Homo sapiens: one gene and its partner. Each later gene encodes a partner of the first gene's protein in a complex. Each region holds a gene or a part of one and is shown on either strand. Other genes may lie near its edges.

Evidence for each region.
Region 2: the proteins of USP12 (region 1) and WDR48 are in contact, whole or in part, in a crystal structure (PDB 5K1C), measured with the Homo sapiens proteins. Residues at the interface, in NP_872294.2 of Homo sapiens: Arg185, Leu187, Thr188, Cys189, Glu190, Thr191, Ser227, Lys230, Cys236, Arg237, Ser238, Lys239, Gln240, Glu241, His243; in NP_065890.1 of Homo sapiens: Arg50, Trp77, Asp118, Tyr119, Lys121, Leu137, Ser170, Tyr172, Thr188, Asp211, Asn212, Lys214, Ser230, Gly254, Trp256, Arg272, Ile363, Ile364, Leu424, Lys425.

What each region holds. Positions count from the first base shown.
Region 1 is NC_000013.11:27,168,658-27,175,992, reverse strand, and holds the start of USP12 (ubiquitin carboxyl-terminal hydrolase 12), read left to right. Parts: upstream 1-4,181; 5' UTR 4,182-4,353; coding exon 4,354-4,401; intron 4,402-6,857; exon of another isoform or gene 6,858-7,056; intron 7,057-7,335. UniProt on the Homo sapiens protein: Deubiquitinating enzyme that plays various roles in the regulation of the immune response and inflammation.
Region 2 is NC_000003.12:39,047,166-39,055,163, forward strand, and holds the start of WDR48 (WD repeat-containing protein 48), read left to right. Parts: upstream 1-4,850; 5' UTR 4,851-4,860; coding exon 4,861-4,908; intron 4,909-5,126; exon of another isoform or gene 5,127-5,436; intron 5,437-7,998. UniProt on the Homo sapiens protein: Regulator of deubiquitinating complexes, which acts as a strong activator of USP1, USP12 and USP46. Enhances the USP1-mediated deubiquitination of FANCD2; USP1 being almost inactive by itself.

The DNA of each region.
Region 1 (7,335 bases):
GCAAGCTGGCAGCCCGAGGGCTGTATTTGCCCACCCCAACTTTTTTTTTTTTTAAATTTTTTTTTTTTTGAGACGGAGTCTCGCTCGGTTGCCCAGGCTGGAGTGCAGTGGCGCGACCTTGGCTCACTGCAAGCTCTGCCATCCAGGTTCACGCCATTCTCCTGCCTCAGCCTCCCGAGTAGCTGGGACTACAGGCGCCCGCCACCATGCCCGGCTAATTTTTTGTATTTTTTAGTAGAGAAGGGGTTTCACCGGGTTAGCCAGGATGGTCTTGATGTCCTGACCTCGTGATCTGCCTGCCTCGGCCTCCCAAAGTGCTGGGATTACAGGCATGAGCCACTGCGCACGGCCCCCCAACTTTTAAAATGTTGACTTTGAATGTCCATTCTAAACTTTCCATTTTGTGTTGAGCGCCAGGCACTATTTGAAACATGTTTTATCGTTGTAACATAATTATTACCCTTATTTTCCAGATGAGGAAAGTGAAACAAAGAAATATCGATTTGAGTATTTTTTTTTTGTAGCTTAAACCTTCATGCAAGTCCGAAAGGAGTCGTGCCTCTCAACCTCATCCTGTCAGAATCAAAATAAAATACTTTTACAAAGCTAGTGTAGTGGAGTGGACACAGGTGTGGCTCCTGGAGCTAGGTTCAAACCTTGGTTCCATTGCTTACTAGTTAGTTGTGCAACCCTGGAAAAGTTATCTCTGTGCCTTGGTTTCCTTATCTAAACGTGGGGATAATCGTAACACCTGCTTCATTAGGTTGTTGCAAGGATTAGATAAAATGTTTACACCCCTTCTTGGACCACTCCCCATCACTTTCTTTCCCAACCCATCACAAGCAAAGCTTCACGAATCATTTATGTGAGCTGGTATAAACCCACATGCCTTCAGGGAGAAAAGAGGTAGCAGAACTATATAATAAAGTGACTTGTGTTAAACTGTTGAACAGAATGAGTAAAGGAAAATTTGAGGCAGACTGTAAGGAACTGGAGAGTGTAGGATTGTGTAACAGTATGCAAATGAAAACATTATAAAATGCTGTGCTGACTAAATGGATTAAGGTTGGACATAGTTCATTTACTTGCCTGGTCCCTGAGGCATCTGGGCATATTTTGTAGTTTGCATATTCAAGAAGGCCGAAAAGGAGTCAGTTGTACACAAACTCATCTTTTGCTAGGCACAGGGAAGCTCTTTGTAAAGCTGATTACACAGCTGTGTAAAGCTGTGTTCTAAAGCCAGATTACCCTTTCCAAGCTCAGGGTGCAAAAGTGTGGAGTTTCAGCCAAACTTATTCTCCAACTGCATTACATATGGTAAAGAACACTCAGTACAACACCTAGCACATAGATTCAAGAATGTCTCTTTTATGTTTGTGTCTCTCCAATCGACCATAGGCTGTGGAGACAAGGCATTGTGAGGCTCTGTGATTAGGTTTCATGACTTTACCTGTGAATTTAGATGGCTCCAACATCAACTAGACATGACTCCAGATAATTCTATCAGAAATCCATTTTACTTTTTAAAATTTAATTTAATTTAATTTTTGAGACGGAATCTTACTCTGTCGCCCAAGCTGGAGTGCAGTAGCATGATCTCGGCTCACTGGTTTTTCCCAGGTTCATGCGACTCTCCTGCCTCAGCCTCCCTAGTAGCTTGGATTACAGGTGCTCGCCACCATGCCCAACTAATTTTTGTAGTTTTAGTAGAGATGGGCTTTCTCCATGTTGGCCAGGTTGGTCTCAAACTCCTGACCTCAAGTGATCCGCCCGCCTTGGCCTCCCAAAGTGCTGGGATTACAACAGGCGAGAGCCACTGTGCTGTATTTTTGAGATACTGTTTCAGTCTGTCGCTCAGGCTACAGTGCAGTGGTTCAATCATGGCTCACTGCAACCTGGATATCTCGGGCTTAAGTTATCCTCTTACTTCGCCTCACAAGTAGCTGGGACTATAGGTATGCGCCACCATGCACCACGTATTTATTTTTATTTTTAGTAGAGACAAGGTCTCACTATGTTGCCCAGGCTGGTCTTGAACTCCCTGGTCTCAAGGAAGTTGGAAGCCATCCTCCTGCCTCAGCCTCCCAAAGTGCTGGGATTACAGGCCTGATCCACTGTGCCCAGCCTAGAAATTTATTTATTTATTTATTTTTGAGAGAGTCTCACTCTGTCACCCAGGCTGGGGTGCAATGGCACAATCCCAGTTCACTGCAATCTCCACCTCCAGGATCCAATCTATTCTTATGCCTCAGCCTCCTGAGTAGCTGGGATTACAGGCGTACACTGCTACGCCTGGCTAATTTTTGTATTTTAGTAGAGACGGGATTTCACCACGTTGGCCAGGCTGGTCTCCAACTCCTGACCTCAAGTGATCCACCTGCCTCGGCCTCCCAAAGTGCTGGAATTACAGGTGTGAGCCACCATACTCAGCCTAGAAATTCATTTTAGAAAGGCCTTGTTCTTATATAAACTTATATGTAAAGCCAGTGGCTTTTGTTCCTGTGACATGTTCGGATTAATGGACAAGGAGGCATATGGGTGGTTAGCGGGATGGAGGCAGGTCTAAAATTCTGGCACATCAGACCTGTTTGCTGGAATAGAACAGCAAGTGGGAAGGACAGGATGACCACAGCTATTTATCAGGACGGGCACACAGATGGGCATGGTGACACTCGGACAAGGCCCAGGTAGGCCCTAGAGGTCTAAGATGTAGAAACCCTTGTCCAAACAGGGGGTAGAAAAGAGCAAGAAAGAATTCAGGTGGGTGATGCTTGCAAGTATAGAGAGGAAAGCCCCTGGCTGGGGTATCAGGGCTCTTGGCTTCCATGGAGGCAGGCGCTTGGAGATCCAGTCCGGCTACCATGGGGCTTGGCTATATTCAATCTGCATTCCCCCCCCAAGCAAGCTTATAATGGAATCACTATGGAAACAGTATTCATGTACCAGAAGTCTATTTTTCACTTAAATTTTGTTTGAATGCTTTTTGTTTTTGAGTGCTTTGAACCCTTGAGGTGAGGCATTTCTGATTTTACAGCTCTGCCTGAATTCAGATCCTCAACCCCACTGAATTAGGGGAACCCAGAAAAGTACCCCATCACGAGTTCAATCAGAAAATATCACAAGCTTTCTAACATAATAATTTATGAAGTTATTCTACTCACTTGAACTACTTTCTCAAATAGGAAAAAATAAAGCTGAGCTGCCAGGCATGAAGAACAGGGTGCAAATATGAATTTTATAAAAGGAGAAAGAGGAACTACCCATGCCAGTAGCCAGCACTGCCTAAGGATTTCTCACAGGGCATTTTTCTTGCTTGCGGGCTTCCTGTCTCTGGTAATATCATCATCACTGCTGGCTTGAGATCCTCCCTATTTTGCAGCTCAATGTGCAGATATTTAGAAGCCTATTATAAATTTATCGCCAACAGGCCAACAGGTTTCGCTCCTCTCCTTCCCCCATTACTTATCTTTCTTCTTAATTCAAAGAGTTAAACATGTGTAATTTGTTCTTTGCCTCTTCATTTTTGTTTAATTATTTTGTCTTTTTCTAAGTTGTGTTTGACTCCGGTGATTCATCCAATATACGTAAAAAGAAACAAACCAAGTGCTTGGGACGCATACCCGGGTTATCTTAACTGTGCAGAGCAGGTTTCCTCCCACTCCGCCCGTAGTTACCCAGATCATCGCCTCCGTTTTCTGTTTAGGCAGCGGGGGCTCGCCGTCCCCTCGCCCGCGGTGGGTGTCGCAGCTGGTCCCCTCCAGGGTTCTCCCAGATCGCCGCCGCCACCCCCGCGCCTCCCCGCCGCACCCCTTCCTACGCGGGGGTCTCTGGGTCCCCGGCTCTAGGACCGCAGGGACGCGGGCAGGAGGTGGCGCCCGCCTTCGGTCCTGCCCTCTGCCGCGCGCGGGGTGGGGACGGACCGGAGTTCCCCGGCTCGCGCACAAGGGCCGCGGAGGGGTTGCCGAGGGGTGGGCGGGGCTGCGCCGCCTGGCCGCGCCGCTGCCTGGCAGGCCGGGCATTAGGGCCTCGGCGGAGCCCGCTCCCCTGTGCGCTGGGCGGGGTGGGCGGAGGGCGGCTTCGCGTGCAGGCGCGGGCCCGGAGGCAGCGGCTGCGCCCTGCGCCGGGGCGGAGCCGGGGGCGGGCCGGCGGCCGGCAGGCGGGGGCTGGGGCCCGAGGCCGGGAGTGCCTGAGCGCCGGCGGCGACGACGGCAGCGGCGGCCCAGCGGGCTCGGTGGTTGGGTCCGCGGCGGCTCGGGGTCCGCCCGCGGGCTGCGGTGCGAGCGGGCGGCCCGGCTCCCCTCCTCCCCCGCCCGCCGCCGCCGCTGTGATTGGGTGGAAGATGGCGCTGGCCGGATGGAAATCCTAATGACAGTCTCCAAATTCGCCTCCATCTGTACCATGGTAGGTGGCGGCGAGCGGGCGGCCGGGGCTGCCGGGACCTCTCGGGCGGGCGGGCGGCGCTGGACCCGCCTCTCCCAGTGGCCGCTCGCGGGGCCTAGCGCCGGGGCGGGCGGGCGGGCTGGGCGGCCCGGGCGGCCCGGGCGGGGGCGGTTGGACGGCGCGCAGGCGGGGAGCGCGGGGGTGAGCGGCCCAGGCGGCTGGGGAGGGGGCGCCGCCTGGTGGGCCAGGGCGGCGCGAGGGTAGCGGTGAGTGGGCGACCGTGCCAGACGCGGCGTCGGGCGGGCACCGGCCTCCGGGAGTCCCCGGCTGAACTGCTGGGGTCCGCTCGGGACGCGGGGACGAGGGCCGAGGCGCGCCCGGCCTGTGCCGGGGTGAGGGGTGGGCGCGCGCGAGCCAGAGCGCGGCCCCGGGCCGGGGTCGTCGGGGAGGGGGCGCGGAGCCGCGCGGGCTCCATTTCCTTCTGGTCGCGCGCCGAGCGGGAGGGGTCCCCGGGAGGGGTGGGGGTCGGCGGGCAGGAAGGAAGGGTCTCGGCCGGGGCGGGCAGCGCTCATTCCCGCCTGGGAGAGGACGGAAGTCAAGTGCAGATTTCCTCGCGCCGCTGGCTGGGCCGAGTCCCCGACCCCGCGCTGGGGGAAAGGGGCGTGTGTGAAGGTGGAAACTTTAAATAAGTACTGTTGAAATTCTCTCCATTTTCTCCTCTGAGAGGCACGAGCTCTCCCGTTTCCAGCCGTGTGTCCAGGTGGCAGTCTTGTCTCTGGGAATGCACGTTAATCTTGAAAAGCAGCATTAGCTTTCCTGTCATTTGTTTACTTCAGCCCACCAGACACATCTGTATGTGGCTGGAGCTAGGTCTGTCTGTGCGGGGACCGCCTGCCAAGGCGATGGTATTTGTTTTCCTAGGGCGTTTAAATAGACTGTAAGGGAAAAGTGCTAATGCCCGCTGGAAGTCCCGAATTAAGCAAAACGTGGGCGCGTTTAAAACTTGGTGTTTTGTGCGTGGCCAGAAGGACCACAGTTTTCCACATGATGAGACAAATTCGTTTCATTAGTTCCTCATGAGCTTATATGTAGGGATCATAATTTATGAGTCATCACCGAAAAAAGTTGTTCTTTGCAACGTGGGCCTAGTGGTTGTTATTAGAGACTTCTGAAATCTTGTGTTTCATGCCTCACTGGCCCTATTTATGCAACTGATTTCATATAGGAGATCCCCAAGAAATTTTCCATCTAAGGGTGGTACATTGTATATATTTTTCTTTAAGGAGTGGTGAATCAGATCTGAAAGATGCCTTAAAAAGCAGATTCTCTACTACACGCTGAGGAACAGTACAAAAAATGACTGAAATCAGGTGGACATAAAATCGACAGTATTAAAGAAATCATATTGAAGGATGAATCATTGAAGACTCCATTTCCCAACTGGATGATTGTTCTTTCTCACAGTTTACATTTTAGGAAAGCATTTGTATTAAATGGACTATATTAAAATGATTTTGGAGAATTGTTTGGGCTAATTATTTTTAGATACGCCAATTATTATCTTAGTCAATTTCAAAAGGAATGCGATAATTAGGTCTTTTACAGTGACAATTTTGCCACATGGCTGAGCTACACACATTGTATGGGTCATAGTTCATTGTCAAAGACTAGATTTCAGGAGTGGTGTGATACTCTTTACCGACTGTTCATTCACTCAAGTACTGTATATCAAGTATACACTTAGCAGCCACTAAGTGCTAGAGGCGACGCTGAGTACTGGGGATGCAGTATTGGTCAGGGCAGCCCCTGTTTTCTTGGTGTTTACATTCTTGCTCATGGACACAAACAGTATTCAGGTAAACAATAAATGTATGCTGTAATCAGATTAGGACAGTGAGACACAGGGATTTGCCAGGGTCACACACTTAGTAAGTGGGATTCTGATCCCAAGGATGTCAAATCAGAAGCTCTTTCTAGGGCTTCCATCCAGATACATTAATTACATGTGGGGCGTGTGTATTGTTGGCAAATACAGAAAATGCCTGGCCAAATGAGATCGTTCCAAAGGTACTATTAAAATTGGGTGTGTCTGTATTCATATTTGAATACATTCGAATGTACCCCCAAATAGTGCTGAATATCTCAAAGTAATTTGCAGTCTTATTCTTTAAAGAAAATTGCCATTTGTCCTCTGAGAATCACAAAATTGAAAAGCAAAGATACCTCTTTGGCTTTGTAGGTGCTGTTTTGCTAGGCTTGGAACGCTCCTCCCTGCCACACCCCGTATCCTTCTTGTCTGGCGAGTGTGTGTGCCTGTCTCTTAAGCAGGGAGCCTTACTTGAATAATCCTACCCCTGTCCAACCCGACCCTCCATCCCCTTCATACAGTTTCATGGCATTTTTGTAATCTCAGTAGCACTTATCATACTTACTGTGCAGTAAATTTTTCTTTGAACTCTTACTCAATTGTGAGGGCCTTGAAGGGGAAGGATTATCATTTACTTCTGCAGTTTGATCTGGAGTACCAAGTTCTGCATTCAGTATAAAAGTTTTCCAAAGTCCTTCCTGCCTCCTCCTGGTATGCCGGGTGAAGCAGGGATGATGTGGCTGTGTGTGTGTGGAATGGTGGAGAGAAGATGGGCTGGACTTAAACAGAACACTTCTCAGAATCAGCAGCTGTGAAAACATTTAGGATGAGTTGAAATTTTATTCTATAAGTACTGAAGTGTACATAATTTTTTCATTTGTCAAAATAACGTACCTGGGCAAATCTGCAATACCTTAATTGGGTTAAGTAACTGTTAAAAACAATTCTCTTCAGCTGTGTCTTATTTTAGATCACTAGTGTTGTGCTTACATGTGAAAATTAGTAAAACTTGTTTTTCATAAGTTAGTATTATAGCCTGAACCAAATGAGTGATTATGTTTAGATTGCAGTGAGTACATTTTCAAGGG
Region 2 (7,998 bases), on another chromosome or scaffold:
CTTAAGCAATCCTCATATATCAGCCTTCCAAGTAGCTGGGACTACAGGCATGTACCACCATGCCTGGCAATTAACTGATTTTTAACAAAGGCCCTATAACATATTGGGAAAAGAACAGCCTGTTCAATAAATGGTGCTGGGAAAACTGACCCCCTATATGAAAAGGAAAGAAACTAGACTCCCTACGTCTCACCCTATACAAAAATCAACACGAAATGGATTAAAAACCTAAATATAAAACCCAAAACTATGAAACTACTAAAAGATAATACAGGAGAAATGCTTCAGGACATTGGCCTGGGCAAAGATTTTATGGATAAGCCCTCAAAAGCACAGGCAACAAAACCAAATATAGACAAATTGGATTACATCAAACTAAAAAGCTTCTGCACAGAAAAGGAAACAATCAATAGAGGAATGAGACAGCCTACAGAATGAGAGAAAATATTTGCAAAGTATTCATCCAACAAGGAATTAATATCCAGGAAGTATAAAAAACTCAAACAACTCAATAGCAAAAAAAACCCAAATAATTTTTAAATGGGCAAATGATCTGAATACACATTTTTCAAAAGAAGACATATAAATAGCCAACAAATACATGAAAAAAATGCTCAACATCACTAATCATCAGGGAAATACAAATCAAAACCACAGTGAGATATTATCTCACTCCAGTTAGAATCGCTATACGAAAAAGACAAAAACAAATGCAGAGGGTGAGGATGCAGAGAAAAGGGAATTCATACACTGTTGATAGGAATGTAAATTAGTTCAACCATTATGGAAAACAGTGTGTAGATTTCTCAAAGAACTAAAACTACAACTACCATATGATCCAGCAATCCCACTACTACCCAAAGAACAGGAAATCAGTATGTCAAAGAGATACCTGTCCTCCCACAGTTACTGCAGCACTATTCACAGTGGCCAAGATACGGAGTTAACCTAAGTGTCCATCAAAAGAAGAATGGATAAAGAAAATGTGGTACATATATGCAATGAAATACTATTCAATCATAAAAAAGAATAAAATTATGTCATTTGCAGCAACATGGATAGCACCGGAGGTCATTATCTTAAGTGAAATAAGCCAGGCACAGAAAGATAAATACTGCATGTTCTCACCAATATGTGAAAGAGAAATAAGTTGATCTCAGAGAAGTAGAGAACAGAATAGTGGTAACTAGTGGCTGAGAAGGGTAAAGGAGAGGATTATATATAGAGAGGTTGGTTAACACATATAAAATTACAGCTAGGTAGAAGGAATAATTTTTGGTGTTCTATATCACTGTAGGATGACTATGATTAACAATAATTTATTCCATATTTTCAAATAGCTAAAAGAGTGGATATTGAATTTTCCCAAAGCAATTATTACAGATTGTATACAGGTATCAAAATATCACACTGTACCCCATATATATGTACAATTATTATGTGTCAATTAAAAAATACATCCACAAATTTATTGATACTTCATAAAAAAAGGAGTCATCTAATCCCCTCTCCTTAGACACTGATGGCCTTAGTAACTAAGTTCTAATGAATTGACTATGGCTTAAAGTGACACTGCATGACTTCCACTGTGAGTTTAGAAAAAGCATTATAGCTTTCAACCAGATTTTTCTTCTTCGGGATGCTCATCCTTGGAACCCAGTTAGCATATTGTGAGGAACCAAATAGTGCTGTGGAAAGATCATGAGAAGGTGTTCTAGCCACAGCTTTGGCTAAGGACTAGGCCAACACCAGTATCAGTCACCAGACATGTGAGAGAAGGGGTCTTCAGATGATTCCAGCCCCAATCTTTTAGCTGCCCCAGCTGATGTGAAGTGGATAGTGGAACAGAGACAATCTGTTCCCATGAAGCTCTGCATAAATTACAGATTTGTAAGTAAAGTAAGGGTTGTAATTGTTTTAAACCATTGCATTTTGCAGATGGTTAAACAGCAATAGATAAAAGGAACAGGAAAAAAGAGTGCTGAATATTGGACAGTAGTTCAGAGCATATACTGCATCCTACAGGACAGTATCAAAAAGGGTTATCTCCCAGAAGGCACCATAGCTAAGTCTTCAATATATCTTCAATAAGACAAGATACTTCTCAGTGATTGAGTACACAATTAGACCAATAAATTCCATGGGCAATAGCCCATTGCATTACTTCTTTCATTGCAGAGTGAATTTCTTGGTCAAAAGCAATATAGTGTTAGAGAAAATGATAGTGTCTAAAGCACTGAGTAATTCCCTAGATGGTGGTGTCAGCGGAAGTACAGTGAGCAGGGAAAGCAAATCTCAATCTAGAATAAACATATTTTAGAGAGGACAAATAAGAACTCCCTCAATGATGGGGAGGGCCAATGACCAATGGAATAGACTTGCCTACATGTGACTGGCTGACCCTCCCAGAGCATGGGGTATTGGTCACTGCTTCTGAACACCCAGCGGTGGCTTGGTGATCCCATGCATAGCTCCAATCCTGTTGCCATTGCCATTGCCATTTATTTCATGATTCTACTGAGCAGGCAGTGAGGCTGAGTTTCATCACAAAGCAGTTCATTTCATCCATATGATTCTTAAGATTTATTCTGAGAGGTCCATCACTATATCCCTTCTGGAGTCTTCCTTGTCACTAGTTCTCCAGTCTTGCTCTTTCCATGTCCTTCACAAACTGGCCAAAAAATTATCCTCTGACCCTGAATTGACCATTTCTCCTTTCAGCCAAACTGAACATCAAAACATACTGGTGAAAATTCTGCCCACTGAAAGAACTTCACTATTTCAATATTTTTCAGGTCCAAAGCAGGACTACAACATATCAATTTCTAGCAAGTACCAGTATATTGTCCAGAGCAACATACCTGTATTGTATTTTGCACATCATAGGTGCTCAATAGACACTTAAGCAATTTTTAAAATACAGACATATTATTTCCCTACCTGTATTTCAACAGCTTCCCATTGGTCTAAAAGATCCTGCTGGGTATGGCCTCTGCATACTCCTTTCACTTCTCTGTACTCTAAGCCTTGACTCTCAGTTCCTGTAATGTTCCATGCTCTCTCCTGCTACAAGACCTTTGCTCAGACTGTTCCCTCTCCTTGCCTAGTTAACTCTTGACTCAAGATACTTCCTGTCTTACAATCATCTTTCTTCATAGTACTTATCTCTGTATTAATTCCTGTCTCATCCTGGGACTCTAAGTTCTATGACTATGTGCACTCACCACTGATTCCCCAACACCTAATATAGTGCCTGGCATATATGATATGCTAAATAATATTTTGTTAAATGAATGAATACATGAATCAGTGAATGAATAAGCCTGTAATGATGCAGTAATTTACCTATAAGTTATCACTGCCAGTTTTGCTTAAGAAGCTTTCTGCCATCACAATTTTTACTCATCTAATTCACATTTCTTTATTAATTTAAGAAGTATTTGTCAAGACAACTTTTCTAAGCATTACTTATATACTAGCACTATGCAACAGAAATTTGTGACCACATATGTAATTTTAAATATTCTAATATCCATGACAAAATTAATAAATTTTATTTAGCCTAATATACCCCCAAACATCATTTCAACATGAAATCAATACAAAAAATTATTAATGAGATATTTTACATTCTTTTCTTCAAACTAGTCTTTGAAATTTGGGGGTAGTTTACAATTACATATCTCAACTGGAACTAGCTATATTTCAAGTGCTCAAGAGCCACAAATGACTAGCAGATACATCATATGCTATATCCCACAGTGTAGTTCTATAGGATTCACTTTCACTAGAGAGGGTCTGATCACCCTCAGCTCTTATAATTAGTGGTCAGGAAAACCACCTTAAGTCAAACCTAACTGTTCCAGTATAAGAGATGATTTAAACTAGAATTGTCTCTGGGAACAATTTTAGCTGGTGTACCGTTTTCGCCTTCCTATAACATCTTTTTGTCTTGTTTTTTTTTTTTAAACTTTTAAGTTCAGGGGTACAAGTGCAGGTTTGTTATATAGGTAAACTTGTGTCACGGGTGTTTGTTGTACAGGCTATTTTGTCACCCAGGTATTAAGCCTAGTACCCATTAGTTATTTTTCCTGATCCTCGCCCTCCTCCCACCCTCCACCCTCCGAAAGGCCCCAGTGTGTGTTGTCCCCCTCTTTTGTGTCCATGTGTTCTCATCATTTAGCTCCCACTTATAAGTGAGAACGTGCGGTATTTGGTTTTCTGTTCCTTTGTTAGTTTGCTTAAGGATAAGGGCCTCCAGCTCCATCATGTCCCTACAAAGGACATGATCTCGTTCTTTTATGGCCCCACTTTTTATCCTTTTAATTTAAACGGATTCTTTGCTCCCCCTGAAGATGGAGGCCACCTCCTTTGCAAGGACTTCTATCTCTCCCCCTTTGAGGCCACGACATAATTCTCCGCATTTTTAGGTACTTAACAGTAAATCACTTGGTTCACTTGGTTCTCCTGCCTGCCTAGGAAAGGTCAGGAGATGGTCCAGCGCCATGTCTAGCACTGTTAATTCTTTCAGTGCTTTCGTTTTGCTTGGGCCTCTCGGGGAGGGCGCGGAAAAGAGCGCAAGCCAGGGTCTAGGACCACACAAGTGAATTCGTGTTGCTCCCTCAGCCCTGAAAAGTGGCTCTCTCCCCATCAGCATTATACTTGCACAGTGGTTTTGTTTTTAGGTGCATCTACCTCATCACATGGCTACCGGCCACACAGCAACTAACAGCACCGAGGAAACACAACAGCCTGTTTACCTTCAGCCCCGCCACTAACCCTTGGCCAAAGGGAAAGGGGCAGGACATCCTCCCGCTCTGAGCCACCTCCGGAAGTGACGTCGGAGTGTCAACATGCAAGATGGCGGCCCATCACCGGCAGAACACAGCAGGGCGGAGGAAAGTGCAGGTATGGAAGCCCGGTTCCTCGGTCTTCCGGACGCGGCCGGCAGCTCCGGGCCCACTCCAGCTAGAAGGTGCCCGGCGCCACGACCAGCTGGGGTAGCGGCATGGGGCGAACGGGGCGGGGCGCGGCCGGCCACGAGGGGTGGGGCCGCGGCGCTAACGGCTTGAGGAAGGGGCGGGGGTCGGCTTGCTTGGCCCTTGGGGCCCAGGCCCGGGACCCTCGTGGGCGGCATTCTGAGCCCGGGATTGCTTGTCGCCGCTCTTCTGTAGGAGTGGACTTGCGGGGTCGGGATAGGCTCGTTCCCCGCCCACTTGCCTCCCCCTTGCCCTGTCTTTCTTCGAAGCGCTCTGCCCTCGCTGCGTCGGAGCCGAGGCCTCCAGGGGTTTCCCAGGGGGGTGGGCGTTGGAGGAGTGAGCGGCTTGTGCGGGGGCGTGGCGAGGCGGCGGAGCGCCAACGGCCCTGCGGGGTTTCTGCTGAGGATTCCGCACTTGGGAGCCCCCAGCCCTCTCTTATGTGGGAGCTGTCCCCTGGGTAGGTTTAAGTGACATAAGAATGTGCGTGGGGAAATTATAATTTTAATTGTTTTGGTATTTAAGTTCCTCTTCACCATTTCTTCATCTTAAGTGTGCATCGCTGAATCTGTCTTTATTGTTTGTGTAATTTATTGTCCATGTGGTAAAGAGTTGTCTAATCTTACCGTGTGTGTCTTGTGCCTTATGCCTTTGTGAATTCACTTTTGTTTGCGGTTACGCTTAAGAGTTACTGCCACTTCGGGGAACATCACACACCGGGGCCTGTCGGGGGCTGGGGGCGCTAGGGGAGGGATAGCATTAGGAGAAATACCTAATGTAAATGACGAGTTGATGGGTACAGCAAACCAGCATGGCACACGTATACCTATGTAACAAACCTGCACGTTGTGCACATATATCCTAGAACTTAAAGTATAATAATAATATTAAAAAATAGTTATTGCCACTTAATATTTTCAGTGATGCAGGGAATAAAAGCCCTCTTACAGGTGTTTGCCTGCAGGTATATTGTATGTGGTAGTGGCAGTTTGGTGCATTTATTCATTAAACATTTACCTAGCACTTAGGGTGGCCCCCAAAGGGGAAAAGGGATTGAAAGGGTGTAGAAATAATTAACACCTAGGCTTTCTTTATAAAACACAGCATTATATGGAGTTCTGCGGGTTGAAATCAAGTGTCAGATAAAGGTAGTTAGATGAAGGGGTCCTTCAGTAAGGTAATCCCAGCAGAAGGTGGTAGGCCATAAAGTCTTCTGATTAGTTCACATCTTGGTTTTATTGATCTCACTGATCAGTACAGTGTCTTAAGCACTCACTGGATGTTTGTTGAAATGAGTGAAATTAATAAGTCTAAACTCACCCTATTAGGTGTTTTTCAGTGCATTAGTGATAGGATTTAAGTATCACCAGCATCCAAGGCAGGTAGTGAGAATGTCTCCTTGGGACTGAAATATAACTCAAAAAGTAACCCGATTGTATTATAGACTCTATGGTGGTGTACATCTTAGGAGAGTAAGGGTAGTTAATCAGGCCTTTCAGTTTATTGCATTAAGACTTAAAACTCCTATTACTGCAGTGTGTTCCCTGCTTGCTTCCTTCCCAGGCCTGCCCACTCCCAAAATGCATGCAATAAAGTATATATATTTTAAAAAGACTTACAAGGCAATTGTACTAGTATGGGATGGAGAAAATGTAAATTAACTGCAGCAGGTTTGGAAAAACAGTGTTCCAATAGGCTGAATGTGAGCCAGTGCACGTAGAATGAGGCAGGTGATAGATAATTCCACTTTTCACTGGTCAAAGTACAAAATTAGAGTTTGGTGTTCAGCACTTAGGACCTTGTTCTTCATAGGTAGCAATCAGATTGGTGAACTGACTTGAAATTATTTCCTATGAAGAACTTTTGAAAGAGCTGTCTTAGATTAACCTGCTGAAGAGAAGATTCAGGGAACTTTCGGAATTTGTCCCTAAGGTATAGAAGCAGCCTGAGAAGCCACAGGGATTGATTTCATCTGAACCATCATTGTCTATGAGGTGTTTTTTAAACTAATGCGTGTTCATTGTAAAAATCCCAACAAACAAAAACATAAATTAGAGTTGCCCTCCATGCTTCCAAGAAAGCTACTGCGGGCAATGTCATGTTTTAATCCTAGACCAGAGTTTATCAACCTGAACATTCTTGAAATTTCATCTGGATAATTCTTCGCTGTGTCTGAGGGAGGGAGCTGTCCTATGCATCACAGGTTCTTTGGCATCATCCCTGGCTTCTACCAACTAGATGTAGTAGCATCTCCCCAGTTGTGACAACTAAAAATGTCTCCAGACATTTTCAAATGTCCCCTCAAGGGCAAAATTGCCGCTGGTTGAGAACCGCTGTTCTATACCTCTTGCTGTTTGTGTACCTGACTTAACATATTTTTTTGCTATAAATGGAGCCATAGTATTCACTGTTTTGTGTCTTGCTTTGTCAAATTTTTAAATAAACATTCCCTTTAGCCCAGAATTCCTTATCTAAAAATATATTCTACAAAATTGCATATGCATGTATCTGTCCCTACTTATGCAAGGGTGTTGTGTGAAGCCATTCTTGAATTGCTATAAAGAAATACCTGAGACTGGCTCATTTATAAAGAAAAGAGGCATAATTGGCTCATAGTTCTGCAGGCTTTACAGGAAATATGGTGCTAGGATCTGCTCGTCTTCCAGGGAGGCCTCAAAGAGAGAGAGAGTCAAAAAAGCAAGTCAACATGGCATATTCCCATTTCCACAAAGGAAATATGCATTTTAAAAGTCAGGAAGGGTAATAGCAGTGATTATCCCTTTGGGAATAGATTGTGTGATTATAGATAAGACAGGACATGGGATATCTTTTAGTTTGAAATATGCACAACTTTGTATTTTTGAACTTTTTACCACATTATTTGCTCTTATACATCAAAAAGAAAACTTCTCATCTTGGAAAAAGCATACATGGGTACTTGGAGTAAATATACTTTGTCTCCTGACTGTCTCAGACCACGAGACAGTAGCCCTGAGCTCCTTGTCAAGTTGTAGGCCAAGAC